Linked DNA regions of Homo sapiens. The protein of the gene in region 1 interacts with the protein of each later gene in a pairwise test. Each region holds a gene or a part of one and is shown on either strand. Other genes may lie near its edges.

Region 1 (7,699 bases):
AGCCAGTTCTCCTTGACTGCACAGCACCAAGGTGCCAGTCAGTGCTGGTCAGGCTGGCCGCTAGGTCTTGGTGCACCCGCCACTTCCTACCACCCTTGCATTTTCTCCTCTTAGGGCCACTGGTGTGTCTCACCTGGAACCTGCTCACCAAAAACCCGTCTGTTACTTCACAGATCCTGCCACGCGGGAGCCCGGCACAGCTTGGCTGAGGTCTCTGCCAGGGTCTCCTGGAGCTGCCATTAAGCTGTCCTGGTCTCCGAACTCCTGTGGAGCTTGAGGTCCTTCCCTGACCATTCGGGCCGTGGCAGGATTTCCATCCTGCGGCTGTGGGGGTCAGGCCCTCGGCTTCCAGGGGTAACTCAGAGGTCTCTGCCTCCCCTGCTCCTTCTGCCAGGAGACTGGGAGTCCTTCCTTTCTGTGTCACCTGTTTCCTGGCTGCGTGTCCACTTGCTTCAGTTGACCCACGGCCTCTTCTTTGAACAACAGTCCTCTTTCTCTGAGGTCTTTTTTTGTTTGTTTGTTTTTGTTTTGTTTGGTTTGATTGGTTTGTTTTGAGACAGAGTCTTGAAGGGGTGGGTTGCCCCTCCACACCTGTGGGTGTTTCTCGTTAGGTGGAACGAGAGACTTGGAAAAGAAAAAGACACAAAGTATAGAGAAAGTAATAAGGGGACCCAGGGAACCAGCGTTCAGCATATGGAGGATCCTGCCAGCCTCTGAGTTCCCTTAGTATTTATTGATCATTCGTGGGTGTTTCTCCGAGAGGGGGATGTGTCAGGGTCACAAGACAATAGTGGGGAGAGGGTCAGCAGACAAACACGTGAACAAAGGTCTTTGCATCATAGACAAGGTAAAGAATCAAGTGCTGTGCTTTTAGATATGCATACACATAAACATCTCAATGCTTTACAAAGCAGTATTGCTGCCCGCATGTCCCACCTCCAGCCCTAAGGCGGTTTTTCCCTATCTCAGTAGATGGAACGTACAATCGGGTTTTATACCGAGACATTCCATTGCCCAGGGACGGGCAGGAGACAGATGCCTTCCTCTTGTCTCAACTGCAAGAGGCATTCCTTCCTCTTTTACTAATCCTCCTCAGCACAGACCCTTTACGGGTGTCAGGCTGGGGGACGGTCAGGTCTTTCCCTTCCCACGAGGCCATATTTCAGACTGTCACATGGGGAGAAACCCTGGACAATACCTGGTTTTCCTAGGCAGAGGACCCGGCGGCCTTCCGCAGTATTTGTGTCCCTGGGTACTTGAGGTTAGGGAGTGGTGATGACTCTTAAGGAGCATGCTGCCTTCAAGCATCTGTTTAACAAAGCACATCCTGCACAGCCCTTAATCCATTTCACCCTGAGTTGACACAGCACATGTTTCAGAGAGCACGGGGTTGGGGGTAAGGTCATAGATTAACAGAATCTCAAGGCAGAAGAATTTTTCTTAGTACAGAACAAAATGGTGTCTCCTATGTCTACTTCTTTCTACACAGACACAGTAACAATCTGATCTCTCTTGCTTTTCCCCACAGGTCTCACTCTGTCACCCAAGCTGGAGTGCAATGGCGTGATCTCAGCTCACTGCAATCTCCACCTCCCGGGCTCAAGTGATTCTCCTGCCTCAGCCTCCCGAGTACCTGGGATTACAGGCGAACACCACCACTCCCGGCTAATTTTTGTAGTTTTAGTAGAGATGGAATTTCACCGTGTTGGCCAGGCTGGTCTCAAACCCCTGACCTCAGGTGATCCACCCGCCTCGGCCTCCCAACGTGCTGGGATGACAGGAGTGAGCCACTGCGCCAGGCCCAGCTGTCTTTGTTTTTCAGGGGTGCCTTTGGTAATTTCTTCATCGTACTTTTTTTTTTCAGGGTAGCAGGTAAGAGACTCAGTGGATAGGCTCATGGAAACAGTCCTTGAAGGGGTGGTATTCTAAGACTCAGCTACTTTTTTTTTTTTTTTTTTTTTTTTTTTTTTTTTGAGACGGAGTCTCACTGTGGAGTGCAGTGGCGAAATCTTACTGCAACCTCCGCCTCCTGGATTCAAGCAATTCTCCTGCCCCAGCCTCCCGAGTAGCTGGGACTAAGGCAAGCACCAACATGCCTGGCTAATTTTTTGTAATTTTTTTTTTGGTGGAGATGGGGTTTCACTATGTTGGCCAGGCTGGTCTCGAACTCCTGACCTCGAGTGATCCTCCTGTCTTGGCCTCCCAGAGTGCTGGGATTACAGGCGTGAGCCACCTCTCCGGCCTGGACTCGGCTACTTTTGGATCAAGAAATCCAGAATTTTCTAGACTGTGAACTTGCCCTTTATCATGGACATTTACCACCTGCAACTGCCCAGAGGTTCTCTGTCTCACCCTACACCGTGAGGACCCCCTTAGCAAACAGAATTCCAGGGCGCGGGCTCTTCGCAGGATCTGAGCTATTCGCGGGCGTCCTGAGTTGCTTGGATTCACTCCCCCACCCCCATGTCCCTGGAGTCCTGCCTTGTGTTTTCGATTCTGTTTCTCAGGGGCCCCAGCGTGTGGCCTCCCATTGTGGGAGAGCAGGAGGGAAGCGGTGAGGGGTGATTTCGGAGGAGGCAGAGCCCCGGGTGTCCGTGGGAAGCTCCAAAGCCGGGCCGCGGGACGGCTACCCTGGGCTGTGACGCAGTCCAGGATCTTCGCCAAGGCACCTGCTGGAGGCCCCTCCTGGGTCCCACGACCCCGACTGCGCCTGCCGGCTGCCAGCGAGGAGGCGGGGCCAAGGCGAGGGCGGGGCCGAGGCAGGAGGGGCGGGGTCGGCCTGATGGGCGGGGCTTCCGTGTGGGCGGGGCTGCTGGCCCTGCGGTCTGAGCCAGCGGGGAGAGGCCCGGGCGGAGGAGGCTGCGGACTCCTAGAGGTTCAGTGCCGGAAGTTGGGCCTGGAAAGGGGGCACCGCCTTCCCGGTTCTGGTGGCGGGGAGTGAGGGGACGGGCGAAAGCGGCACAGGGAACAGCATGACACGGGCCTGAGGCAGGGCACATTTGGAAAGGGGCGAGGAGAGGGCAGTGGCTTCTGGCACGGCAGCAGTGGGCATACAGAGGCAGTCGGGACCCGTCTGGAAGAGCCTCCGCCCGGGGTAAGGAGCCGGGACTGTGTCTAGGAGGCAGTGGGGAGCTCCGGAGAGCGAAGCGCCTCCTGCGCAGACTCGCGTGCTTGGAGTACCGGAGCCTGCAGGGCAAGAGAGGGTCTTCAGAAGACCCACGACGTTCCACTGGGATGCAGAGGGAAACGGTTACTTGTACTTCTACATCATCTCTTTTAGATGTGTGTGTGTGTGGTGTGTGTTGTTGTTGTTGTTTTTGTTTTGCGACAGAATCTCTGTCACCCAGGCTGGAGTGCAGTGCCAATCTCGGCTCACTGCAGCCTCCGCCTCCCGAGCTCAAGTGGTCCCCCCGCCTCAGCCTCCCGAGTAGCTGGTACCACAGGCGCCGGCCACCACGCCCGGCTAATTTTTAAAAAAAATTTTTAGTCGACACGGTTCTAACTATGTTGCTCAGGCTGGTCTGAAACTCCTGGACTCAAACAATCCTCCTGCCTTGGCCTCCCAAAGTGCTGGGATTACATTCATGAGCCTCTCGCCCACCCAGTCTAAGTGTTTTAATTTTTATCTTTTACAACAGCTTCTAATTTGTTACAAATAAACGTGCAGCATGTGGTGGGAGTGTTCAGGTGTTTACTGGTGCAGTGCGCAATGAACGCGGTTCCAGGCACGAGATGTGGAGGCCCAGAGGCAGATGCCGGGTGGCGGCGGCGCGGGACTGTCGGAGGCGCGGGCAGGGACCTGGGCTCCCAAGGCTGTGGCCCTCCCGCCCCAGTCCAGGGTCCAGTTCCAGGGGCGCGTCTGGCCCTCTGTTGCTGTCTTCTTAGGGTTCTCTCATGGGAATCGGTTCTTCAGCCTTTCTTTTCTCCCCAGAGAGGGTCTGTCTACTCGTTGTAAGAGGGAACAAGTCCACATTGCAGCTGTACACTTTGCACCCATGATGAAAAGCGTCACTTTTGCAGCATTCCAGCTGGAGATGCGTGACCTTCGGTCTGCGGCAGGCGGAAGGGCGAGAGACTTGGACAGGAGGTGCATCTTGCCCGGGGAAGGCTGAACGAATGAGAGCTCGGTCCCTGGTGAGAAAGAGCCCAGAGCCCGCGAGAGGCGGGCAGCAAGGGCTTCTCTGCAGCGGAGACGCGAGGGCGGCGTCCTGCAGGGAGGCGGGGGGCAGCGCCTGGGGCGCTCCAAGCTCTCGGCCCCAAGGAAGCCCACGCTCGGGACCCGCGTGCTGCCACAGCCCCGGGGGCCTGGAGGGTCCCGTGAGCCGAGCGGGACCCGGGACAAGCGCGGGACGCCGCGGGGAACGGACGGGAACGCGCGTGGCCGCCCCACAGCGGGCCTTCGACACCTCCTGACACGTCCTGCGGGTGCCCGGTCCTCAGTTGGCTCGAGCCGGATCCCGGCGCGCCAACGGCTCGACCTTGCCCCCCACGAGGCAGGGCTTCCTGCCCGGCAGGAAGGACTCGGCCGGCGCCTGCGGGCAACCGATGAGCTGAAGGCGCCGCGGCTGGGCCGTCCCGCTCTCCCGCCGCCGAGCGCGCTGTCCTCCCGCTGCCCAGAGCGTCGCCGGAAGTGCCGAGGGGGCGGGCCAGGGGTGGAGACTGGCGTTTCCGGCGCGCGACGGGGCGGGGACCGTAGCGGGTGCAGTCCAGCTGCTCTGGACGCTGAGGCCCCGGCTTCTCTTGCTGGGGTGTCGATTCGGGAGGGCTGAGGGCGCGGCCGAGAGAACGGGGCGGTCACCGCCGCCGTGGCCCGCGCGTCCCGCGCTCTCCTTGCAGTGCAGGCCCCAGCCGCTCTCGGGCGCGGCGTGGGGGAGGCGGCCCTGCAGGTGCGTACCCGGGGTCCGACACGTGCGGGGCTTCCTGCGAGCTGAGTCCCCGCTGCGCGTCTTCAGGCCTTTGTAAGTTGTCAAATTTCCCACCGGCCCAGCTCATCGAGCTTCTTCCCAGCTGTGAACAGGAGGGCCTGTTCCCTAATTCTTGCCGGTAAGGTACTTGCAAAAATCTGCTTCCAGACTAAAAAATTGCACTTTAAATTACCTTTTTGTAAAAGCGGCGGGGTCTCGCTATGTTTCCCAGGCTGGCCTCCTACTCCTGGGCTCAAGCGATCCTCCCGCTCAGCCTCCCTGGCAGGCGGGATTACAGGCGGCTTAAATTAAATTTACTAATTAATCACTTTATTTACTTATTTTTTTAAGACAGGGTCTCACTCCAACGCCCAGCTGGAGTGCAGTGGCGAAATCTCGGTTCACCCCAGCCTAGACCTCCTGGGCTCAGGCAGTCCTCCCACCTCAGCCTCCCTAGTAGCTGGGACTACAGACGCCCACCATCACACCTGGCTAATTTTTTGATTTTTTGTAGAGACGGGGTCTCACTATGTTGCCCAGGCTGGTCAGGAACTCTTGTAATCAGTCAGTCCTCCATCCTGAGCCTTTTGAAGTGCTAGGATTACAACTGTGAGCCACAGCACCCAGCCAAATTACATTTCTTAATTGCACTTGAGGTGAGACCTAAAAAAATGTATTGCCTACTGGTTTTTCTTCTTTGTGAGTTACCTATTCATGATCTTTGCCAATTTTCCTTCCTTTCTCATTAATATATAGAGGTCTTTATCAGATAGGGATGAATCTTTGCATTGCACGTATTCCTCCCTTTTTGGTTTTTTTTTTTTACATTAAATTTTTTTATGTAGTTGAATTTGTCAGACATCTGATGTCAGGCTTAGAAAAATCATTCCTCATTCCAAAACTTTACCATTCAAATAAGTTGTTCTTTTCTTCTGGTTTAACATTTTTATATTCAAATCCTTATAACTACCAAGAAAATTTTAAAACCCATGGGAATTTCTCTAGACATTTGAAGACTGCTGGAGGGCGCGGGCTTCCTCAGCATGGAGCTAGGAAGCTGTGGCCACGCCCACCTGTGCTCTGCGTCAGCCCTGGGTGGAGGGGGACCCGCAGAGCCTGGACCAGAGTTCCTGGGCATCCCACAGAACAGAACACCCGCTTCTGGGAGTGTCTGTTGAGCCAGGACCTTGATTGCTAGTGACAGGAGTGGGCCCAGCTGGGTGATGCAGCTCCCACAGGGCCTGTTCTGACAGTTTCCTCTGAAGGCATTCTGACCTCACTGCCCCTGGCCCCTGTACCTAGCCCTGGCTGTGATTTATTTTCCTTTTCTTTTACCTAAGCAGAAATTGTTCCAACTGCTGGTGTTCTGCAAGATGGAGCCAGGAGGAGAGCCCACAGGTGCTAAAGAGAGCAGTACCCTGATGGAGTCCCTTGCAGGTGAGGGGACATGTCCACAGTCGGGCCCAGAGTTCCAGGGCAGGAATTGAACAGGAATACAGGAAAAACACCATGTCTCAGTCACTGACGCAGAGCATATACTGTGTCCTTGGGCGCAGGGTGAGGGAGGGAGGTAAACGCAGGCCCATCAGATCTCCTGGGCATCTGTTTGGTGACTGTCTTTGCCAGTGAACTGAGAGCTTTTGGTTAGAAAGTCTGGCAGCCCCAGGCTCTGCCTCTGGGAAGGTCTCTCTCTCAGTGCTTCTCCACCTTGGCACCGTGGCTGTTTTGGAATGGACGAGTCTTTGTTGAGGGGCCATCCTGTGTGTTGTAGGACGTTCGGCAGCACCCTCGCCTCTGCCCACTTGGTGTCAGTAGGGCCCCCTCCCAGTTGTGACAATCCAAAACATCTCCACACATTGTCAAATGTGCCCTCAGGACAAAATCGCCCCCATGAGAACACTGCTTTATGTTTTGGGGCCACCCTGAGAGTGTGTCACAGCAACAGCCCGGGAGATGGCGTGGGCAGTGCAGGCCCTGCTGTGAGGTCTGGGATTGCCTCCATCGGAAAGGCGTCCTTGGGGCCTGCAGGCTGGATCCAGTAGAGCTCCACCACGTATGTGTCCCCTTCTCACCATAGTCTTGGTTCTTTTTCCTCATAAGCAATACCTTTGAGTCAGTTCTTGAACTTCCAAGTCTGCAAACCACAAGACCAGGGCTGGGCCTCTGCCAAGGGGCTTCTGTTCTGCAGGCCGCCCTGAGCGCCTCCCGCCCCCTGGCTGCTCAGTGTCAGGGGTCTGCAAGGGCAGAGAGAGGTGGGGACTGTCGATAGCAGCCTGCTCTCATCTGCCCTGGAACATCCCTGCCCCACCCCCACCTCCACAGGAGCTTCCGTCTTATCTGCGCCCTCCACATTCTTGAGAGGTGCAGCTGGGACTCAGCCGCTTCTCCTCTGCTGCCACAGCGGACTGCCTGCAGACTGAGAAGTCCTCCTCAGTTGCTGTGCTGGCCTCGTTGGCCCCCCTCCTCCTGCTGCCCCTCCTGGCTGAGTCCTCCTGCCTCCTATGCAGGCCAAGCTCAGTTGCCAGCTTTCTCATGTCCCAGGGTTTCACCCCTACCCCTTAAGCCTTTTTTCTAAATGGCCACATGGTCTGTCCCTGTGAGCCAGTGGAACCAAATCTAACCAGTGGCTTGACTGCCAGACAAGGGCCATTGATAACGCAGCCTGGATGGGGTTGCTCAGCCTGACCAGCGCCGCCGCCGCCCAGCCCACATGGGACGTGGGTTGCTGCTTCCAGCTCTTGTTCCGGATTTCTTTTCTTTTCTTTTTTTTTTTTTTAAGACAAAGTCTTGCTCTG
Region 2 (7,022 bases), on another chromosome or scaffold:
AGCGGCTGGGCGCAGTGGCTCACATCTGTAATCTCAGTACTTTGGGAGGCCGAGGAGGGCGGATCACGAGGTCAGGAGATTGAGACCATCCTGGCTAACACGGTGAAACCCCGTCTCTACTAAAAATACAAAAAAATTAGCTGGGTGTGGTGGCTGGCGCCTGTAGTCCCAGCTACTCGAGAGGTGAGCAGAGAGATCGTGCCACTGCACTCCCACCTGGGTGACAGAGCGAGACTCCGTCTCAAAAAAAAAAAAGGTCCTAGAAGCAAAAGGCATTCATGTAGCAATGAACACATCTTGTGTCCAGATCATAGTTTCTGAATGCCATTACCCACCAAAAGGAACCAGGGAGCTCTTTAGGATAATGGCTGATTCTGGGACTGAGGCAGGTAAAGCAAAAGGTAATCATAGAACATCTTATTGTGCCAGAAACTATCAAACTATGCTAACATTATATATATATATAACATTAGTAGGTGATGTCAAGTTACAGTGAGTGGCCCCAGACTTGAAACGATACCCAGGAAAAGGTGTCAGCTCATGGCCCTGCTGTGCAGGATTGGAACAATTACCTCCTGCATTTCTGAATCCCTGCAAAGCTATCTGAAAAGGAGAGTAAGGATAGAATTTCTCTGGGCCGAATTGTGAACCCAGAGCAATCAGCTCAACTCAACATAAGGTAAGGACAGTTCTTCAGCCTTTCAGAGGAATTCCAAACTTATTTGTTCTATTAAGGTAGGAAGAGAAAAGAGTCTTGGCCAAACCTATAATACAGAGATTACTAGAAGAAAAAACAAGAGAAAAACAAAGTCCCTTAATGAAATGAAATTTGATACTTACCTAATGTGGATCTGGGTATGCTGACATCCTCTTTGGCAGTCAATGAAGTGCTATCATCTCTGGAAGGTATCTGCATTGAACCCTAAAAAATTGCAAAAGTCAGGGGACTTAGGAAGATGCAGGAACTATGATCACAATGACAGTACTGAGAATATTCTCAGAATTTGGTATTAAAATTATCAAACTTACACCTCAAATGTAAAAAGGAAATGGAATCAGCATGAATTATGTAAGTCTATAGTTCTTACTTGATCAGTCTGTTTTCCAAGACGGCCAGTGGGGGTAACTTCAGCTTGTTGGTTAGAGATGGGTGCTTGGGACATCAGGGAGTCTCTCCCTCCTAAATATTGGCGCAGGGCCTGTAATTCTGAATTTCTTTCCATTAAGGCTTGCACCAACTTCTCTGCAGCAGCCTAGTAAGAGGAAATCACAAATAACATTATAAAGATATTCTAGTAAAACAAATTTTTTGTTCTGGTATTATTTCTTCAAAGTCAACCATTTGTAAAAAACAAACAACAATGACAACAACAAAAAACAGTGGGTCCTTAGGAAATAGTTTCCTTGCTTTCAGTTTACAGGGAAAAACAGAGTTAAGTGAATGGAAAGAAAGTCTCATAGGCAGAATATTGGGAAAAAAAACTGAATTTAACACATCTGTAACAGATAAGAGAATCTGAAATAGGTTCTGCTACAACTATCAGGCTAAGGTGTTAAGATTCTGGTTTGAATTAGTATAACAAATGTCTTTATTCTCGGATAGTTGCTTCTTAGGGGTGGATTCCTTTTCACTCAAACATTTGTGTGGTTTGCTCCCTTCAGGTCTTTGCCAAATGTCACCTTATCAGGTTGGTCTTTCCTGCGTATCCTATCCAAAACAGCAATCTTGCTGGCCAAAGTATAAGATGAATATGTTTTGGGGATCCAATGATAGCATGGTGACTTTAGTTAATAATACTGTATTATTTACTTGAAATTTGCTAAGAGAGTAGATCTTAAGTGGTTTCACCATACACGCATAAAATGTGTAGTGACGGATGTGTTAATTTGTGGCAATCACTTCAAAATGTATATGTATATCAACACATCATGCTGTACACCTTGAGTATATACAATATTTGTCAATTATACTTTAATAAAGCTGGGAAAAAATTTTTTTTAAAACCCAGCAATCTCTTCTCTATCTCCAACACTTCTTACTGTGCTTAATTTTTTTTCGATGCACTTACCATTATCTAATAGATCTCTCTCTCTGCTTCCCCTACATGGAATGTAAGTTTCCTAAAGGCAATTTGGTGCTGAATCTCAAGCACCCAGTACGGTGTCTGGCACATAATAGGCACACACTACATATTTACTGAATGAATCAATTACGCACATAAACATGTTTATCAGACCACATGATTAGGATAATCTCAACCTCAAAATCACCCAACTCAGCTTGTTTCATTTCAAATCCCAGTTTTCTAAGACAGATGATGACACACTAAGGGAAAGATCTAGAACATTTTTAACTATTAATGCACAGGAAGTCTGCATTTAAACAGAAAATCTGGAAATAATAAATTGATATTAAAATTACTGAGGGTCTAAGATGATGAATCATAACACCAACTGTCTCTGAGGAAAAGTACTATTGTTTTAGGGCAGAAGCTGAGCTCTTGTCACAATTTCTAGGGGAAATATGAAAAAACCTTCCACTTTTCAGTAAGTAAAATTTGGGCTCTTTGGAGATTTGAATTTAACTATTTTAGACGTATCAGAATATTATTAAAGTACCTTAATAAAAATATCTGTGAAAACTGTGGGGAAAAAACATAATAAATAATATACAAGATATATACTGTGCTCTATCTGCCTTGGCACTCCTTTTCTCGTAGTATTTAAGAGTTTTTAGCAGTGCTCCTCCAATGCAGTCCCCGAACCTGCAGCATCACTATCACCTGGAAACTTGTTAGAAATGCAAATTCTTAAGTCCCACCTATACCTCGTAATTTCTTTCTCTGGAGTTGAGCTCCACAATCTACATCTTTAAAAAGCTATTCAGGTGATTTCTTTTGCACGTAAATTTAGAGAAGCAGATCTAGAAGAATACAACCATTAATCTTCTTGAGTTGAAAAATCTCCTGTAATTTCCATCATCTCCATTATTCTATTACCAGCAGTGCATAATTTTTTTTCTGAGGTATAATAAAGACCAATTGTCCCAAATCACAAAGAAGTTAAAAAGAAAACTCAAAGATCCTAGCCTCTTGCCAAAGATTTAAATAATTTAGAATAATTTTGTTAGGTCTATTTTAGAAACAATTTCTGAAGCACACAGCAGGACCTTTCTAGAAAGATGTGTATTTACTTCAGTGGGCCTAACAATTAGAATAGTGGAGTATAATCCTTTCACAACATAAGAAAACATAAGAAAATATTATGGGGTCAAATAACATAGGCAAAAAAGAGTCTATCTTCCTCTAAAAACTGACTACGGGGATTCTGAGCTACTGGTATCTGAAATGCAGCACAAGTCAACTAAGAGTTTTTAGCCTTGAGGAGAAAACACATAGAAATGAGGAAAAATTAACACTTTACTATGGGCAGGGCATGGTGGCTCACGCCTGTAATCCCAGCACTTTGGGAGGCTGAGATGGGTGGATCACTTGAGGCCAGGAATCGTAAGCCAGCCTGGCCAACATGGTGAAACCCCATCTCTACTAAAAATACAAAACTTAGCGGGCATGGTGGTGCATGCCTGTAATCCCAGCTACTTGGGAGGCTGAAGCAGAAGAATTGCTTGAACCCAGGAGGCAGAGGTTGCAGTGAGCCAAGATTGCGCCATCGCACTCCAGCTGGGTGACAGAGGGAGATGCCATCTCAAAAAAAAAAAAAAAAAAGAATTTACTTCTTAAATATTGTGAAATTAATATACCCTGTACTATTATGAGATTGTTTATTCTCACCATGACCTCTGAAAAATGCGATCTTTTTTCCCTCTTAACTCAGATTTTACAAAAACTAAGAGTAAACATGTTGAGTGTAAGTTTTCCCATACCTTGACTGGAAATGCAAAATATCACTCAAGTCTTAACAATTTAGAATCAAAATCGAAACACTCACAACCCCTACTCCTTTCTCTCAAAATTATCAGATTATTAAGGAAAAGAAAATGTATGTAATGAAGTTAATGGATACATGTATTGTTTAGGCACCCTTCCAAATGCAAGGTTTTCAAGAAATGTGTCATACTTTGATGATTAATGTAAAACTGTGGTCTAAGGCCAGGCGCAGCAGCTCACACGTATAGTCCCAGCACTTTGGGAAGCCAAGGCAGGATGATTGCTTGAGCCCAGGAGTTTGAGACCAGCCTGTGCAACACAGCGAAACCCCCATCTCTAAATAAGTAAGTAAATAAATAAAACTGTGGTTTAGGTAATAAATAGAAGGAAAGAAACTAACAGAGTTGACGGTAAAATATATAAATATACACACATCTATAGTCTGCAAATGCTTCCTATTTGCAGACTATAAATGCACTACATGACACTTGTCTGATCTGTGCATTAATCCTTACTTGGCTTTCCTGCTCCCTGGTGCTCACAGACTGAAGCAGGCCTTGAATCTCCATTTCATGTTCCAGCACTTGTTTATTTCGATCACTTAGAAGGTCCTGCAGCATCCTTTCCTTTCGCTGTAGACGCTGGCACAGCTCCTCTGCTATCTCACTCTGCCCTGGTCCAAGTTTGCAGAGCAGTGTTGCACTAAGATCCTAATGCAGAAAGGACACTGTAAGCTTCTGGAGGAAAGAAATGCCTCTGCTAAATATCAAAGGGCTTATAAGAATCTATCATAGAAGAAGGAGGTGTGAGATTCTTGAGAATAAGTATCATGTTTTACTCATTTTTGTTTTACCAGATCTAGCACAGGCCTGCTACACAGAAGTCTCTAAATACATGTCCCAGGAATGAATACAAACCATACAGAAAACTATCTCTGGTGGCCACTTACATACATATTGTTTTCTGAAATAAGTCTTTTTCCTATTTGTTCAGGGCATGTAACAATTAATGTTAGATGAGGATAAATGGACACTCAGTTCATTTATTTGTTTTCTCCCCAGTGTAACTTAACAGGGGGAAGCATAAAACGATAAGCTGAAAGGAATACTAAACACTATATTTGCTATCATAGCGATGGTTTCTATTTCTGTACTAACTGATGGCACATGGTGGAGGAATGGAGCCATACTGCCTAGGTTGATACTGGATCTGCTACTTATTAGCTATGTTAGCTTGGACAAGTTACTTAGCTTCAGAAGTCTGTTTCCTCCTCTATAAAAAGGAATAATAGAAAGTACCTCATGGACTTGTGAGGATCCAATGAGTTAATATCCATTAGGATCTTAAAACAGTACCTGACCCAGCATGAAGACTATAACTAATAAAGGTTAGCTATCATGTTAAAGATGCAATTTTTGGGTCTCATTAATTCTCACATAAGTTCTTTGAGAAAGTTAATTGCCAACTTAAGTTTCTAGACGTGGGGAAAAAAAAAATCCCAGTGAAAGTCAATGACTTGCCCAGGCACAGAATGAAATTAAAGACTTGGGTCACAGTCCTCCCAATCTGAAGAGTCCTAATCCAAGGCTGAGATTACATAATCACTGAACCAACTGCCTTAAAGTTAACTGAAGTCTTGCCTCCACTTCTTTGTTCCTATCATGAAGAGACGTCTGTAACTGCTGAATGATACTCTCTTGTTCCTTCTGCCAACGGCTAAATTTGGTTTCCATTTCTTCTTTCAGCCACTGGAGGTTTTGACAGGTAGTAGATAACTGTTCCACTTCCAGGCCTTTGGCCCTCAGGAGACTCTCCATACTCTACAGCCATAAAGAGAGCAATAATCAGTCAAAATGATTACCCCATACTCCTCAGGATAAACAAGAAATTAGATCCACTTTTAAATAATCTCCCATCAATTTTTTTTTATTTGCAAGATGAGAACATTGATCTAACAATGCCATACTAATCTATTTTTTTGGTTTTTAGAAACTTTTATCTAGTTTGTGGAGAGATTAAATATAGAATATATGATAAAAGGAAGTATTTTGGAGGAAGTGCACTATGCTATAAAGGATTTCTCGAAAAAGTGGCAGATAGATACATAAGCTCTAAAATAAATATGCAAAAAAGTCCACAGTAAATATAGATAAACAAGTGTTCTAATTATGGCAATTCATGGACATGTAGATAATATTAATGTAGAAGACACAATTTAATAATTGCACCCTGGTAATGCTTCAGTAAAAGTAAGAGAGAGAGAGAAGAGCGTGTGTGTATGTATACTTATGTATGAACAAGAATTGGAAATAAATCAGAACTATGTAAACAGAAATCAATATTTACTGGCTCTCCTCACAAAGTTCATATTACAAAAGAAAAGTAGAAGCGCTAAAATCTCTCACTTGCTAATTGACAATGATGGAACTAGTAACTGCTCTTTTTGGTTTTCTTCCCCCTTATAAAGCAAAATCCCTGGTTTTCAGAAAATGATGGAAGGGGGTCATGCTTCAGGCTCAGGATACAAGTGGGAGAGGAACACCAAGTCAGAGATAGGTTTTGCTCTTACTTGCATAGTAGCTTCATTGGAGGAGAGGACATCGCGCAGTCTCTCTAAGTCATGATCTCGCTCTCTCACAGCAAGACGAAGCTGGCGCAGTTCTTTTTCTTTCTCTTCTAGAGCAGAGAATTTTTCATCTATAGCCCGCTGCAAGGAAAGGAAGACTCCTAAAGCTCTGTAAGATTTACTATCCTGATCACTCTTATTCAACAAGATGGCAGAATAGAAAACCAAATCCCAAAGCAGCAAATTTAAGCAAACACAAATTTCTATAATACCTATGTAGATAGAATAATCCATAGCATAGTGGGCGAAATGATGATACATACCTCCAGAGCAACAGCTTTATCATGTATTCGCTGGCGAAGTTTCTCAAGCAACATTTCATTTGCTTCAAGGGTTTTGTCTGAGTTATCTCGATACTGTAGGAGCTCCCGAAATTCCTGAGACCAAAAATAGTTTCTTTTATTCTTTTATCCAATATTAACTAAATTACCAAGTAATTTGCTAGTTATTCAGGATAAAAAAAAAACAAGATGTGATCACTCTCCTCAAAAGTAACAAGTTTAGCAGAG
Region 3 (7,022 bases), on another chromosome or scaffold:
CTAAAAATACAAAAAATTAGCTGGGTATGATGGGGGACACCAGTAATCCTAGCTACTCAGGAGGCTGAGGCAGGATAATTGCTTGAACCTGGGAGGCAGAGGTTGCAATGAGCCGAGATCGCGCCGCTGCACTCCAGCCTGGGCGACAGAGTAAGACTCTGTCTCAAAAAAAAAAAACTAGAAAATAGGCCCACAGCAGCTACAGAAACAGTAAGTGACTTATCCAATATCACACAACTGGAACCCAGAAAACCAGGCTTCGTTTGTTCCCTCAACAGCCAAGAGCTCTAGTGACTATCTACTGTGGGAAACAGCCTTGCACTAGCTCCCCGAGGAAGGCCTAGCTGTCTTTGTTCTCTGTGGCCTCACTGAGCTCCCCCGTCTGAATTCGCAGACTCCTGCATGCGCCTCTGAGGCAGTGTCCTCAATGGGAAGTTTGACCTGGGTTTGATTCCTGCCTGTGCCATGTGGAGCCTTGAGCAGCTCCTCTGAGCCTCAGGTGCCTCTGCAGAAACAAGATGATACAATCAACGCACCTAGCCCAGCACAGGTAGACTCCAGGTGCTCAATAAATGGCAGCGATTAGCATGATTAGGATTTCCTCTCTGCTGTGTGAACTGGACCAAAAGTTTCCCAGGCTTTAATTGGTCCCTCTCCCAACCTGAGATTGGGACGGGTGGCCACGTCTACATGTCCTCCCAAATAAATGGCCACCCACAGTGGTGGCAGGTGGAATTAGAATGTTAGCCGGGTGTGCCTCCCCATAATGGAGTTCATTTTTTATACAACTGGGAACTTTTTTAATAAAGAGGTGAAATAATCTCATTGCCGCCACTGCCGAGCACAGGACGCATTAGGCGGCTCCCCAGTGAGCTGTTTAATTTTATTAATTTTGCCAAAAAGGTACAGCTCCCCTTCACTAGAGATCCTCCAGGGAGAAAGGGGGACAGCTGGCTGGGTGGCACCACCCTGAGGGGAGTCACAGCGGGACCTTCCAAAAGATACTTTAAAAAGGCCTCTGTCATTGTTGGTGGCACAGCCCCTGTATCTTCCTGTGCCCTGTCTGCAAATAACACAGCTTCAGCCTCCAATGCCTCTGATTTTTCATGGGAATCATCTGCCACACTGTTTTTGCATCTGCAATTGTGTTTGATTACCCCAGAGAAGGTAACCTTATTATAACCAGGTCATTCACAGCTAAAGTCAGCATCGTCATTATAAATCGTTATTTTCAAGGCCTTAGAATTTGTGTGGGAGAAGGAGGAAACACACACATCTCTCCTTCCTGGGATATGACCACGATCGTTTGCTGTCATTTAATGGAAATAATTCCAACCATCTATTCAGTACCTTCTATGTGCCTAGCACTCCACTGATTTACTAAGTTTCTTCAACCTTCACAACAACTCTTGTTATACAGAGTAAGAAACTGAGACTCGGATAGGGGAAGGCACTTGCCCAAGGTTGATAGAAAAGTTGGTCACAAAGTTGCAGCTAGAATCCTGGCCTTCATTCCTAGACCTGCACCCATTTTTTTTTAACCACACAGGGATCCAGAGGGCCTTTCATTGCCTCGGTCCACACATGCCATTTTGCATCACGTGACCTAATTATCTGCTTTCCTCTTGGGTCTTCTGTATTACTTGTCAACCTTAAGCAATGACTAGTGGAAGAGACAGAAAATGTGCCCAAATGTCCCATAAGGCCAGACACCAATTAGCGGAAACCAGTATTTTAGTTCCAGAATACCTGGCAATATTTCAGGGGCCACCAATGCCTACAGGGCAGATCCAAATACAGAAACAGGCCCCTGAAGTATATTTCTTTATTAAAATATAAAAACCCTAACCTACCACTACGTCTGTAGGAGCCCTGTCTTTCTGACTCTGAAAGGAAATTGAACTGTGTGCTGGCCTAGCAGTCCAGGTGGAGTTTATACAAGGCACTCCCGATCCTGAAGGCAGGAGCAAAGTGCCTCAAAGCCAGGACTGTGTCCCCATTCGGCCCACAGGCAGAAAAGCCATCCCAGTGACAAACACTCACTGCCTCCCAGCACCTCTGGGAAGAATATGTCTTGGGTACTGACTGTGGCAATCAAGAAGCCCTGATTGTAGTGGCAAGCAGGAGACACCCGACAGGGGCTGGGAAGTTCAGAGCCCCCAGAAGGCCACGAATTGCTCAGAGGGCCACTGAGTGTTTGGGGGCACGTTGTATGTGTGAGAGTCAAGTCCAGACTCCGTCACTCACCAGCCACGAGATCCAGGGTAAATCCCTTCACCTCCCTGAGCTTTGGTCTCCGCAGTGTCTGGTGTGGAAGAGATGGGTCAGTTTATTTTCTGGGCTCACTTGGTGGGTCTCCTTTCAGCAGGGAGTCAAGAAGGATCTGCCTTTTAAAACGTGTCCTCATTAGAAGAATCACATTAGAAAACATGCAGATCCTCTTTGGTCACAGCTACTGATTTCTCAACATAGGGATCATCTTCATCCTCACAACAACCCTGTGCAATTGGCATTATTGTCCCCATTTTACAGGTGAGGAAACTTCACAGAGCTGACAAATGACAGAGCCAGGATTCAAACCCATGTCTGTTGCTGCGCAGGACTGTGCTCCCTCCTCTACTCAAGAGCTTCCCAGCAGAGCTGAGAGCAACGTGGCCCATCAGACCAAAGTTCTCATGGTCCAGATTAATTTTCTCTTTCCTTCCAACCCTTTCTCCAGGTTCACAACCGAAATCTCCTATCTCTGGACTTTGATCGCGTAACACGCACAGAGAAGATCTATGATGACCACCGCAAGTTCACCCTTCGGATTCTGTACGACCAGGCGGGGCGGCCCAGCCTCTGGTCACCCAGCAGCAGGCTGAATGGTGTCAACGTGACATACTCCCCTGGGGGTTACATTGCTGGCATCCAGAGGGGCATCATGTCTGAAAGAATGGAATACGACCAGGCGGGCCGCATCACATCCAGGATCTTCGCTGATGGGAAGACATGGAGCTACACATACTTAGAGAAGGCAGGTGTCTGTCTCCCTGCATCACTGGCCTTGCCATACAGAAGGCCAATCATTCACGGCCAAGCCCAGCCTGGTGGCCTCAGTGGGCTGTATCTGACCCATGTCACCAAAAGGAAATGTTCAGGAAAGTCTGCCACAGAGGGCATGGGGTCCCAAGAGGCATCAGGATGGATCAGGGAGATAGCATGGCAGGTGGTGGTCCTAGGGCAGGAGAACATGAAAGACCTGCCTGATAGAGTAGAGGCCCAAATACTCACTGGATTTGCAGAGCAGGACTCGGGGTTCAGACCCAGGCCAAGGGTCTGCTCCCAGGTCTAGGGCATGTGGTACAATCCAGTTGTGGAGAACCAGGCAGAAGCCTAGGCATCAGTACATAGGCAGGAGGCACTTACTCCTGAGCTTCAAGTGCTGGGCATGGCCTTAGTAAATCTATTCTGCTCTAGCATCAGAACTCATGTCATCCCAGGGGTAAGAATCAGAAATGACCTAAAATCAAAAGTTGGTCTCAAATAGGAAAAAATGGTAGCTTTGCAGCATAAAGCCTCTAGGCCTTTTATCTGCTGATCTTTTCCTGAGAACAAGTGCACTGCATGCCCCATTTCAAGTATCCAGATCCCTGCTTTGTTTCCTGACCCTGGTGACCTGTCCAGGGCATAGGCTGTGCTTGCTCTGAGGTGGGTCTCCTCTACCCACTGGGTGAGTACCCCCAAAAGTGACATTTTGCGCTAGTACTAAGAGAGAGAGAGACCTTGGAGGTCATCCAACATACTGAAAACCCAAACCCAGAGAGGGGAAGAACTTTCCCAGGGCCACACAAGGAGACTATTGTTAGAAACCAGGTTCTCCCATTCCCATCACAGTCTGCCCTATCCCAGAGTAGGCTTATGACCTGTCATTGTGCAAAGCCTTAAATGCCCTTCTCAAATATGGTCTTCGTGCTGTAAGCCACAGGGAGTCAGCGGAAACTGTTTAGCAGGTAAAAGAAATTGTGAGACTGTGTTTGGAGGAGCTCACTCTTGCCTGAATAGGAAGATTGGTTTGAGAAGTCTGGGGCAAGGAAGCCAGACTGCTGTACATACTTCAGGCCAAAGCTTCTTGGCCGTTCTCACACCCCACCACGCACAAAAGTAACCAGGTCTGTCCTGCACAAAGGGGCAAACCCACGAGGCTGCTCACCATAGGACAGCAAATGGCCTGAGTACCTGGAGGCCTAGGCCCCAGGTAGGTTACAGGTGTGCTAAGGTTAAAGCTGTGCTAAGATGAGGCTGAGAGAAAGCCTCATCTTGGCACATCTGTAACCTATTTGCAGTATCCCGTGACACTCCTGTTGGAGAGCTCTGGTTGGAGCATAACTCAAGAGAACCATGGAAACTCAGGATTCTCCTTGGACATTCATTCCGTCCCTTTAAGTCTCGGGTATGTAGACCTACCCTTTCTCCTCACCACCCTCCTCTCATCTCTTGGTTTTCCTCTCCCTCCAGTCCATGGTGCTGCTACTACACAGCCAGAGGCAGTATATCTTTGAGTTCGACAAGAATGACCGCCTCTCTTCTGTGACGATGCCCAACGTGGCGCGGCAGACACTAGAGACCATCCGCTCAGTGGGCTACTACAGAAACATCTATCAGCCCCCTGAGGGCAATGCCTCAGTCATACAGGACTTCACTGAGGATGGGCACCTCCTTCACACCTTCTACCTGGGCACTGGCCGCAGGGTGATATACAAGTATGGCAAACTGTCAAAGCTGGCAGAGACGCTCTATGACACCACCAAGGTCAGTTTCACCTATGACGAGACGGCAGGCATGCTGAAGACCATCAACCTACAGAATGAGGGCTTCACCTGCACCATCCGCTACCGTCAGATTGGGCCCCTGATTGACCGACAGATCTTCCGCTTCACTGAGGAAGGCATGGTCAACGCCCGTTTTGACTACAACTATGACAACAGCTTCCGGGTGACCAGCATGCAGGCTGTGATCAACGAGACCCCACTGCCCATTGATCTCTATCGCTATGATGATGTGTCAGGCAAGACAGAGCAGTTTGGGAAGTTTGGTGTCATTTACTATGACATTAACCAGATCATCACCACAGCTGTCATGACCCACACCAAGCATTTTGATGCATATGGCAGGATGAAGGAAGTGCAGTATGAGATCTTCCGCTCGCTCATGTACTGGATGACCGTCCAGTATGATAACATGGGGCGAGTAGTGAAGAAGGAGCTGAAGGTAGGACCCTACGCCAATACCACTCGCTACTCCTATGAGTATGATGCTGACGGCCAGCTGCAGACAGTCTCCATCAATGACAAGCCACTCTGGCGCTACAGCTACGACCTCAATGGGAACCTGCACTTACTGAGCCCTGGGAACAGTGCACGGCTCACACCACTACGGTATGACATCCGCGACCGCATCACTCGGCTGGGTGACGTGCAATACAAGATGGATGAGGATGGCTTCCTGAGGCAGCGGGGCGGTGATATCTTTGAGTACAACTCAGCTGGCCTGCTCATCAAGGCCTACAACCGGGCTGGCAGCTGGAGTGTCAGGTACCGCTACGATGGCCTGGGGCGGCGCGTGTCCAGCAAGAGCAGCCACAGCCACCACCTGCAGTTCTTCTATGCAGACCTGACCAACCCCACCAAGGTCACCCACCTGTACAACCACTCCAGCTCTGAGATCACCTCCCTCTACTACGACTTGCAAGGACACCTCTTTGCCATGGAGCTGAGCAGTGGTGATGAGTTTTACATAGCTTGTGACAACATCGGGACCCCTCTTGCTGTCTTTAGTGGAACAGGTTTGATGATCAAGCAAATCCTGTACACAGCCTATGGGGAGATCTACATGGATACCAACCCCAACTTTCAGATCATCATAGGCTACCATGGTGGCCTCTATGATCCACTCACCAAGCTTGTCCACATGGGCCGGCGAGATTATGATGTGCTGGCCGGACGCTGGACTAGCCCAGACCACGAGCTGTGGAAGCACCTTAGTAGCAGCAACGTCATGCCTTTTAATCTCTATATGTTCAAAAACAACAACCCCATCAGCAACTCCCAGGACATCAAGTGCTTCATGACAGGTAAGGACCACGGCTCACTCAGGGGCAGGACCCCATAAAGTGCTCTTACTACCTAACAATACTTAGTCTTCTTTGAGAAAGCTGGCATAAGGTGACAGGAAACACTGACTTTCTCTTAGAGCAGCATTTTCCAAAGTCCGTTTGAAGAAACACTAGTTCAGAAAATACTCTGGAAAAATGGTTCCAGCATCAAATAAATTTGTCAGGGTCACCACCATTATTACATTTTCATAGTACATTTCAGTGTATGATAAGCTCTGGGAAGTGCTATAAAAGTGAACTATTTAATATATTTGCCCACTATTTCTCAAACTTATTTGACCGTAAAAGCCCTTTTTTCACCATGAAATCCTAATATCTCATGGGATACATCCCATGGATTGCACTTTAGGAGTTTCTGACACACAAATCAAACTGCTAATGAGTCCTTGATTGGGTTAAGGTATGGCTTTAAAAAAAAATTAGTTCTCAATTTGGGATAATGTAAGAATGGAGTGAAGGATCCACCAGTTTGAAGCCATGACATGTTACAAAAATTATTTAACTGCCCTGAATTCCAGTTTCCTGATACGTAAATTGAAGTTAGAACATCTACCTATAATTAAATATGTGTATTATAAACCCTAGAGAAACCACTAAAAAGATAAAAACTAAAAAAAGAGTCCTAGCTAATAAGTCAACAGTGGAGATAAAATGGAAGACAAGAAAATAATCCAAAGAGGGCAGGAAAAGAGGGAAAAAAAAGAATAAGGAACACATGCAACAATAGAAACTAACACCTACCTGGTAGGGTGGTTGCAAGGGTGAAGTGAAATACATTTCATGAGGTACTTAGCGCAGTGCCTGGCTCGTGTTGGTTCCCTTTCCTTTACCCCCTAACTTGAAAAGTGAGCTCTGCCTTCCATTACCA
Region 4 (7,365 bases), on another chromosome or scaffold:
TCAGGCATGGTTTCCCATGGGCAAAATGAAAAACAGTAATGGTTGCTAAGACTAGTAGTATTGTAAGAAACTGAATGAGATGGTTGTGAACTTGCCCAATATTGTATAAATAATAAGTGAATTTCTCCTAATTCTGGCTTTCCTTCCTTCCCTCCCTCCCTCTTCCATCCTTCTTCTTTCCCTCCTTCCTTCCTTCTTCCCTTTCTTCAATCCTTCTTCTTCTCATCTTTCTTTTCTTCCTTTTCCCTATCTTCTTTGTTCCTTCCCTCTTTCCCTTCCTCCCTTCCTTTCCTTCTTCCCTCTCTTCTTACTTTCTCTCTTCCTTCCTCTTTTCCTCAATTCTTCTCTTCCTCCTGCCCTCTCTTCATTCCTTCCTTCTTTCCCTTTCCTTTCTTCTCTTCCCTCATTCTTTCTTTCCTTCCTTCCTACATTTTTTCCCTCTCTTTCATCCTTCTTCTTTCCCTCCCCCATTCCCTCTCTACCTCTTTCCATCCCTCACTACCTTCTTCTCTTTCTTTACTTCCTTTCTTCCTCCCTCCCTTCCCTCTTTCCTTCCTTCCTCTCTCCCTTCTTCCCTCCCTTGCTCTTCTTCTCTCCCTCCCTCGCATTTCTTCTCTCCCTCCCTCTGAATTGCCTTCCCTTTCTTTCTCCCCTCCCTCCCTCCCTCCTTCTTTCCTTCCCTCCTTCTATTGCTGCTTCCTTCCCTCCTTTTCCCTTTCCCTCCTCAATTGGTCCTATTGGCTCTAAGAATAGAAGGATGAATAAAGCATAGCCATTGCCCTTAAATAAGCAACCATTTCAGAGGTGAGTACAGATAATGCAGAGCTATGAAAAAGTTGACTGTTATAAGGGACATTAAAAAAACAGTTGACATAAAAAAAGTTGACATTAAAAAAAAGTTTAAGGGACATAAAAAAAGTTGACATAAAAAGTTAACTGTTACAAGAGACATAAACCACTCTCTGGGGAGAAAATAAAGGTAAGATTAATTCTGCCAAAAGGGACAGGAAAGGTGACTGGCCTAGAATCCTGCCTGGAACCCACTTGCTCTGCATTGCTCAGGGTTGGCCCTGTGGCCAAGCTCAGACTCTCACACCGGCTACTAAATATGACTGTACCTCAGCAGATGGATTTAACTCTTGCACACAGGAAGAAAATGGAAGCAACAAACTCAGTTAAAACGGGGCATGAAAGCAGAAATGTGCTATATTCCTAGAGTGCTTTGGGCTTCCTATTCATTCAGAGATCCTCTCTCTTCCCTTTTAAAGGTGAGAAAACAAAGAGCCTGTAACACTGAGTGACTTGTTCAAAGTTGCAAAACTGGCCCCTGGTGGAACTTGGATTACACTCATGTCACTTCAGTCCCTGACCAGAGATCTTTCTGCTCCTGCCTTGCACTCTAGCCTGGAAAAAAGGAAAGGATGGAAAAGTAAAGAGGAAGGGAAAAGCAAAAGGGAAGGGGAAGAACAAGGGGAAGTGGAGAGAAAGAGAAGGGAAAGGGAAGGGAAGGAGAGAGGAAGGGAGGGGAGGGGAGGGGAAGGGAGGGGAGGGGAGGGGAAGGGAGGGGAGGGGGAGGGGAGGGAAGTGAAGGGAAGGGAAGGGAAAAAGGGGGGATGGGAAGAGAAGGGAAAGGAAAGCAAGGAAAAGGAAAATAAGTGGAAAGGAAGAAAGGAAAGAGGGAGGGAGGGAATAAAGGAAAGAAGGAAAGAAATGAGGGAGAGAAAGAGGAAAAGGAGAGAGACGGAGGAGGGAGGGAGAAAGGGGAGAAGGAGGGCAAAGGGAAGGAAGGAAGGAAAGAAAGGAACAAAGAAGGAAGGAAAGAAGAAAAGTTAATCGCAACAATTCATTGCACTGGCAATAAATAAATTGTATATTCCTTCAACGCCTGCAAAGTCCCCTATATTTTCTCGAATTACTCAGCTCATCAAGCTGCATGGGTATTGCTCTTCTTCACAAAGGACAGCAATCCCTTGGAAACTGCTTTCCTCCCTCATTCTATCAGGCCTGTAACACTATCTCTGAGAATATCTAACAGAACAAAGCCATTTGGACACTTGGTCACTTAATTCATCCTCAGTTTTGTCAGGCCTCTTCTTGAAAACTTGGCTATCTCATATTCATGGCTCTCTACTGGAAGCAGCTGGCTGGGACAAGAAGTTTCTGATTCAGAGAGACCGGTGATTGAGGTGGGATTAATAAAGGGACATCATTATTTCCTCAGCTGAGCCCCCAATCAATTTTTCAGTTAGAATCCTGGACACATAATGTTACTGTTTCGTTCTTATTAGTCACATGTGTTTGGGGCTACCCCATCGTAACCACATGAGAGTACTGTTGGCAAAACAAAACAAACAGGATGTTTAATGACAAGAACAGAATTAGCTAATAAGTCAAATAACAAAATTTGTAGCCTAACCAATGCTATAAAAGCACTTGATTTTATAGAACCGAGGGCCCATTTTGCACATTACATATGATCACACCTCGAGCCGTGTTTTTATTTTGGTGGTGTTGTGAAAGGTGTGATATTTGGATTAGAGCATCATAAAGACACAGAAGCCATAACTGATTAGAGCATGTGATGAGAGGCAGGTGGGTGGGTAGGCAGCTGCAGCCACAGCAAATGTGGCCTGTCTCTTTTCTGAGGGTAACAAGAAACGAAAGGGCCGAGTGTGGTGGCTCACACCTGTAATCCCAGCACTTTGAGAGGCCGGGTGGATCATTTGAGGCCAGGAGTTCAAGACAAGCCTGGGCAACAAAGCAAGATCCCATCTCTACCAAAAAAAAAAAACAAAAAAAAAACAAAAGAAAAAACCTAAACGAAACAAAACAAAACAAACAAACAAAAAATTAGCCCTGTGTGGTGACCTGTACACCCAGCTCCTCCGGAGTCTGAGGCAGGAGTTTGAGGCTGCAGTGGGCCGTGATCATGCCACTGCACTGAAGCCTGGGTGACAAAGTGAGATCGTGTCTCTAAAACATTAAAAAAAAAAAAAAAAGGAAAAATGAGAGTGAGAACTGAAACAGCAGAAGGGCTCAAATCATCCTGTACATAGAAATCCTCCATCCAGGCCAGGCGCGGTGGCTCACCAGCATTTTGGGAGACCGAGGCAGGAGGATCACGAGGTCCGGAGATCGAGACCATCATGTCCAACATGGTGAAACCCCGTCTCACTAAAAATACAAAAACAAAATTAGCTGGGGGTGATGGCGGACGACTGTAGTCCCAGCTACTCAGGAGGCTGAGGCGGCAGAAAGGCATGAACCCGGGAATCGAGCTTGCAGTAAGTGGAGATCGCGCCACTGCGCTCCAGGCTAGGCCACAGAGCGAGACTCCGTCTGAAAAAAAAAAAAAAGAGAGAGAGAGAGAGAAAGAAATCCTCCATCCAGCCCTGTTGGTTGTGTATGTGTTGGAGGGGGTGGAGGGGCAGCCTTCTCAGGCTTTCAAGGAGGGCTCCCTAGCACCTCAGCTAAGATTTGTTTGTCTATACTATTAAAAGATAGACATAACTGTGTCCCAAACCAGCCTCCCCAGTTCCCACCAGCCAGAGCGCCTGACCTTGCAGGGAAGCTTATCTGTTTACCGTCCGAGCACTTTCAGGGATTCTAAAATGCCGTGAGTGGGAACCACTGCCATGGGCCATTTCCATGAAAATTCAATTTCGGGGATTAATTTGAACAGGTACTATTGACGTTTTCTCGTTTACACAAGATCAAAGAGTAAAAACAACCGGGCCTCTGCTTAACAGTTGAGGATTCTAGCAAAGTTAGGAAACAGGTTTCTATTTGTAGTAGAAGAGAGAGCAGGCAGAAAGAGGAAGATGGGAGCGGGGAGAGATTGGCAGAGATTCAGAAAGTTCGCGCTTGAGATTTTTACGTTTCTTACTCGTAAACGTCTATTTCTCTGGGTTTCTGAATGCAAAGACGAGAAAGTCTCAACAGTCTGCTAAACTAACACGGCCTTCGAATCCCAATCTGAACACAGTAGCTGAAACAAGCTGTCCACAAAGAGGAAAGCCAGAGGGGGCCAATTAGGAAGGAAGAAATTAAAGAAAAGAGAAAAGCCAAGATGAAAGGTCCAGCGCAAAGTGAATGACTCGACTGGAGAATGGCAGCCCTGGCAGGGTCTGCGGCCGGCTGCGGAGGTGGGGACGCGGCCGCGCGGACGAGTGACAGGTTGGTCCGGCGCAGCAAAGGGAGCGGGTGCGGCGGTAGGGCCTCTCCGGGGGCAGCGCGAGGGCCTCCCCCGGGGCAGCGCGGGCCAAGGCGGGGCCTCCAGAGCGGGGGCAGCAGAGGAGGGAGCGGAACGGGAGCCGGGCGGAGGCGGCTGCGGCAGGGGGAGGCGGGAGGCGGGCGCGCTAGCTCCCATGCTGGCCTCGGTGCCACTCGCGCGCCGGCCGCGCTCCGGGCTTCTCTTTTCCCTCCGACGCGCCACGGCTGCCCAGACATTCCGGCTGCCGGGTCTGGAGAGCTCCCCGAACCCCTCCGCGGAGAGGAGCGAGGCGGCGCCAGGGTGGCCCCCGGGGCGCGCTTGGTCTCGGAGAAGCGGGGACGAGGCCGGAGGATGAGCGACTGAGGGCGACGCGGGCACTGACGCGAGTTGGGGCCGCGACTACCGGCAGCTGACAGCGCGATGAGCGACTCCCCAGAGACGCCCTAGCCCGGTGTGCGCGCCAGGCGGAGCGCGCAGGTGGGGCTGGGCTGTTAGTGGTCCGCCCCACGCGGGTCGCCGGCCGGCCCAGGATGGGCGCTGGCAACCCGGGCCCGCGCCCGCCGCTGCTACCCCTGCGCCCGCTGCGAGCCCGGCGTCCGGCCCGCGCCCTGCGCTCATGTATGTAGGTTTGGCGCCGGTCTTCAGGGCTGAGGGTGCATGCTGGGTGTCCCCGCGCGGCCGGACGCGCTCCAGCTGGGTTCAGCCGCTCAGCTGCTCCGGAGGAACCCCCTCCCCCGCCCAAGTTTGTGAATATGGGCGCTTCGCCCAGTGTTGAGGTCGGCAGGGACCGGGCAGGGGGTCAGCAGGGCCGGGCACGTCCGGAGCCCTCAGGGAGGAGGGCTGAGGGGGAGGGGACAGACGCACCGGAGTGCGCAGAGTGGGGGCGTTCGGGGAGTGAGGCGGAGAGAGGCTGGATTGCCGGTGTCCTGCGGCGTCTCGGGCTCTCCCAGCCCCTTTGGGCGGCAGAAACTTTGGAATCCAGAAAGGCTGGCCGGGATCCAGCGAGTAGGAGGGTCTCGCGCCCACTCTGCGCCCTGGGGCCCCAGCCTCCCGCACTGCACACCTTGGTGCTGCCCGGGCGCTTCTGCTCCGCAGCCAGGACACTACAAGACTGAGCGCTGCGGCCGGCGACCTGGCTCCCAAGGCTCGGAGGGGCGGGCCGGCAGAGGAGCTGAAGCCCCGGGAATCCCCGACCCGGCCCTCTGGCAAGGGGCCGAGGGCATCCTTTCATGCAGCGGGGCTTAGAGAGCGGGGAGGGGGCGTCTGCTCCCGAGACGGGAGTCTTTTAAGAAGTTGTTAGAAATGAATCGTGGAGTCCTAGGAGAAGCTTTGTTTAACCTCCCCGCATTTTCCCAGCACAACCCCCTAAAGCAAATGAGGAAGAGTTTCCCTCTTATCTTCCTGTACATTCGTCCGTCTCTAACTCCACTGCTGAATTCTCCATTTAATAACCTTCGGGAAATGTGGCCAGGACCTAGGGAGGGACACCCTGGGTGCCTGAATTACGTGGTTCAAGGCAGAGCTTTGCAGGGGGGCGCGGGCCTGGCTCGCTGCGTTCCCTGGGCTCCGCAAGCCGCCCTTGGCCATCTCCAACACTAATCACGACTACATCAGAAACACGCCGGCCGGTGTCGTTCTTGGATTTCGCTTCCAATGTATCGCTCCACAGTTTGTGATGTCTAAGAACCCCGGCCGTGCACCGACGCTGGGCATGCTGCCCCCGCCCCCGTCGCCCAGCTCGTTAATCTAGAGCTATGCCGGAGCCCGGGTGGGGGCCGCGGCGGGCCGGGGCGCGCGCGGGCCGCGGGGCTCAGTTGTGCTGCTGTTCTCTCCGCAGGGACGGCGGCTCCCGGCTGGCGGCGGCGCGCCCCCGGGCTGTGAATGCGACTCGCCCCTCGGCCGCGCTCCCCGCCCGCCCGCCCGCCGGGACGTGGTAGGGGATGCCCAGCTCCACTGCGATGGCAGTTGGCGCGCTCTCCAGTTCCCTCCTGGTCACCTGCTGCCTGATGGTGGCTCTGTGCAGTCCGAGCATCCCGCTGGAGAAGCTGGCCCAGGCACCAGAGCAGCCGGGCCAGGAGAAGCGTGAGCACGCCTCTCGGGACGGCCCGGGGCGGGTGAACGAGCTCGGGCGCCCGGCGAGGGACGAGGGCGGCAGCGGCCGGGACTGGAAGAGCAAGAGCGGCCGTGGGCTCGCCGGCCGTGAGCCGTGGAGCAAGCTGAAGCAGGCCTGGGTCTCCCAGGGCGGGGGCGCCAAGGCCGGGGATCTGCAGGTCCGGCCCCGCGGGGACACCCCGCAGGCGGAAGCCCTGGCCGCAGCCGCCCAGGACGCGATTGGCCCGGAACTCGCGCCCACGCCCGAGCCACCCGAGGAGTACGTGTACCCGGACTACCGTGGCAAGGGCTGCGTGGACGAGAGCGGCTTCGTGTACGCGATCGGGGAGAAGTTCGCGCCGGGCCCCTCGGCCTGCCCGTGCCTGTGCACCGAGGAGGGGCCGCTGTGCGCGCAGCCCGAGTGCCCGAGGCTGCACCCGCGCTGCATCCACGTCGACACGAGCCAGTGCTGCCCGCAGTGCAAGGAGAGGAAGAACTACTGCGAGTTCCGGGGCAAGACCTATCAGACTTTGGAGGAGTTCGTGGTAAGATGCGAACGCCCGCCGGGCGACTTTGCACCTTCCAGGAAGGGGTGGAACAGCTTTGGTTCTGTGGTCCCCCACTTTGAAGAAGAGGTGCTCTCTGGTTCTGAGAGGTGGAGAGCACTGTGCTCACGTCCCTTTGACATGACCTCTCTTTTTCAGGGCAGAGGTAATCCTTCCCAGAGCACTGTGGCCAATCCATAGGGATTCCTTCGGTGTTCACTTTAAAAGGGCTTCATGAGGATGAAGCCTATGGCACTGAAGGGAAGGATCCCAACAGGTATCGGAGGGACTTTCAACATTAATGTACTGCTCCTAATTTGGGAATGTTGTCGGTGAAATTCTTAACCTGCTTTCAAACACAGGGTAATTTACGGTACCATTTGGGATATATTCTTCAACTAATAGCTAATTAAGGGAGACTATTCATATAAAAAGCCATTTCCCTAGATTATGTGTTTAGGGTATCATGCAAATGTTCTAAAAATTAAAAGAAAAAGAAAATATTTGCTCACTGGG

Evidence for each region.
Region 2: the proteins of ZNF696 (region 1) and PDE4DIP interact in binary tests that used the Homo sapiens proteins (3 or more experiments, as listed by UniProt).
Region 3: the proteins of ZNF696 (region 1) and TENM4 interact in binary tests that used the Homo sapiens proteins (3 or more experiments, as listed by UniProt).
Region 4: the proteins of ZNF696 (region 1) and VWC2 interact in binary tests that used the Homo sapiens proteins (3 or more experiments, as listed by UniProt).

The regions. Positions count from the first base shown.
Region 1 is NC_000008.11:143,286,725-143,294,423, forward strand, and holds the start of ZNF696 (zinc finger protein 696), read left to right. Parts: upstream 1-4,692; 5' UTR 4,693-5,043; intron 5,044-6,247; 5' UTR 6,248-6,277; coding exon 6,278-6,341; intron 6,342-7,699.
Region 2 is NC_000001.11:148,966,411-148,973,432, reverse strand, and holds part of PDE4DIP (myomegalin), read right to left. Parts: intron 6,891-7,022; coding exon 6,777-6,890; intron 6,595-6,776; coding exon 6,457-6,594; intron 5,708-6,456; coding exon 5,528-5,707; intron 4,598-5,527; coding exon 4,403-4,597; intron 1,254-4,402; coding exon 1,089-1,253; intron 923-1,088; coding exon 841-922; intron 1-840. UniProt on the Homo sapiens protein: Functions as an anchor sequestering components of the cAMP-dependent pathway to Golgi and/or centrosomes.
Region 3 is NC_000011.10:78,668,027-78,675,048, reverse strand, and holds part of TENM4 (teneurin-4), read left to right. Parts: intron 1-2,719; coding exon 2,720-3,016; intron 3,017-4,497; coding exon 4,498-6,112; intron 6,113-7,022. UniProt on the Homo sapiens protein: Involved in neural development, regulating the establishment of proper connectivity within the nervous system. Plays a role in the establishment of the anterior-posterior axis during gastrulation.
Region 4 is NC_000007.14:49,769,283-49,776,647, forward strand, and holds the start of VWC2 (brorin precursor), read left to right. Parts: upstream 1-4,355; 5' UTR 4,356-4,831; intron 4,832-6,050; 5' UTR 6,051-6,153; coding exon 6,154-6,849; intron 6,850-7,365. UniProt on the Homo sapiens protein: BMP antagonist which may play a role in neural development. Promotes cell adhesion.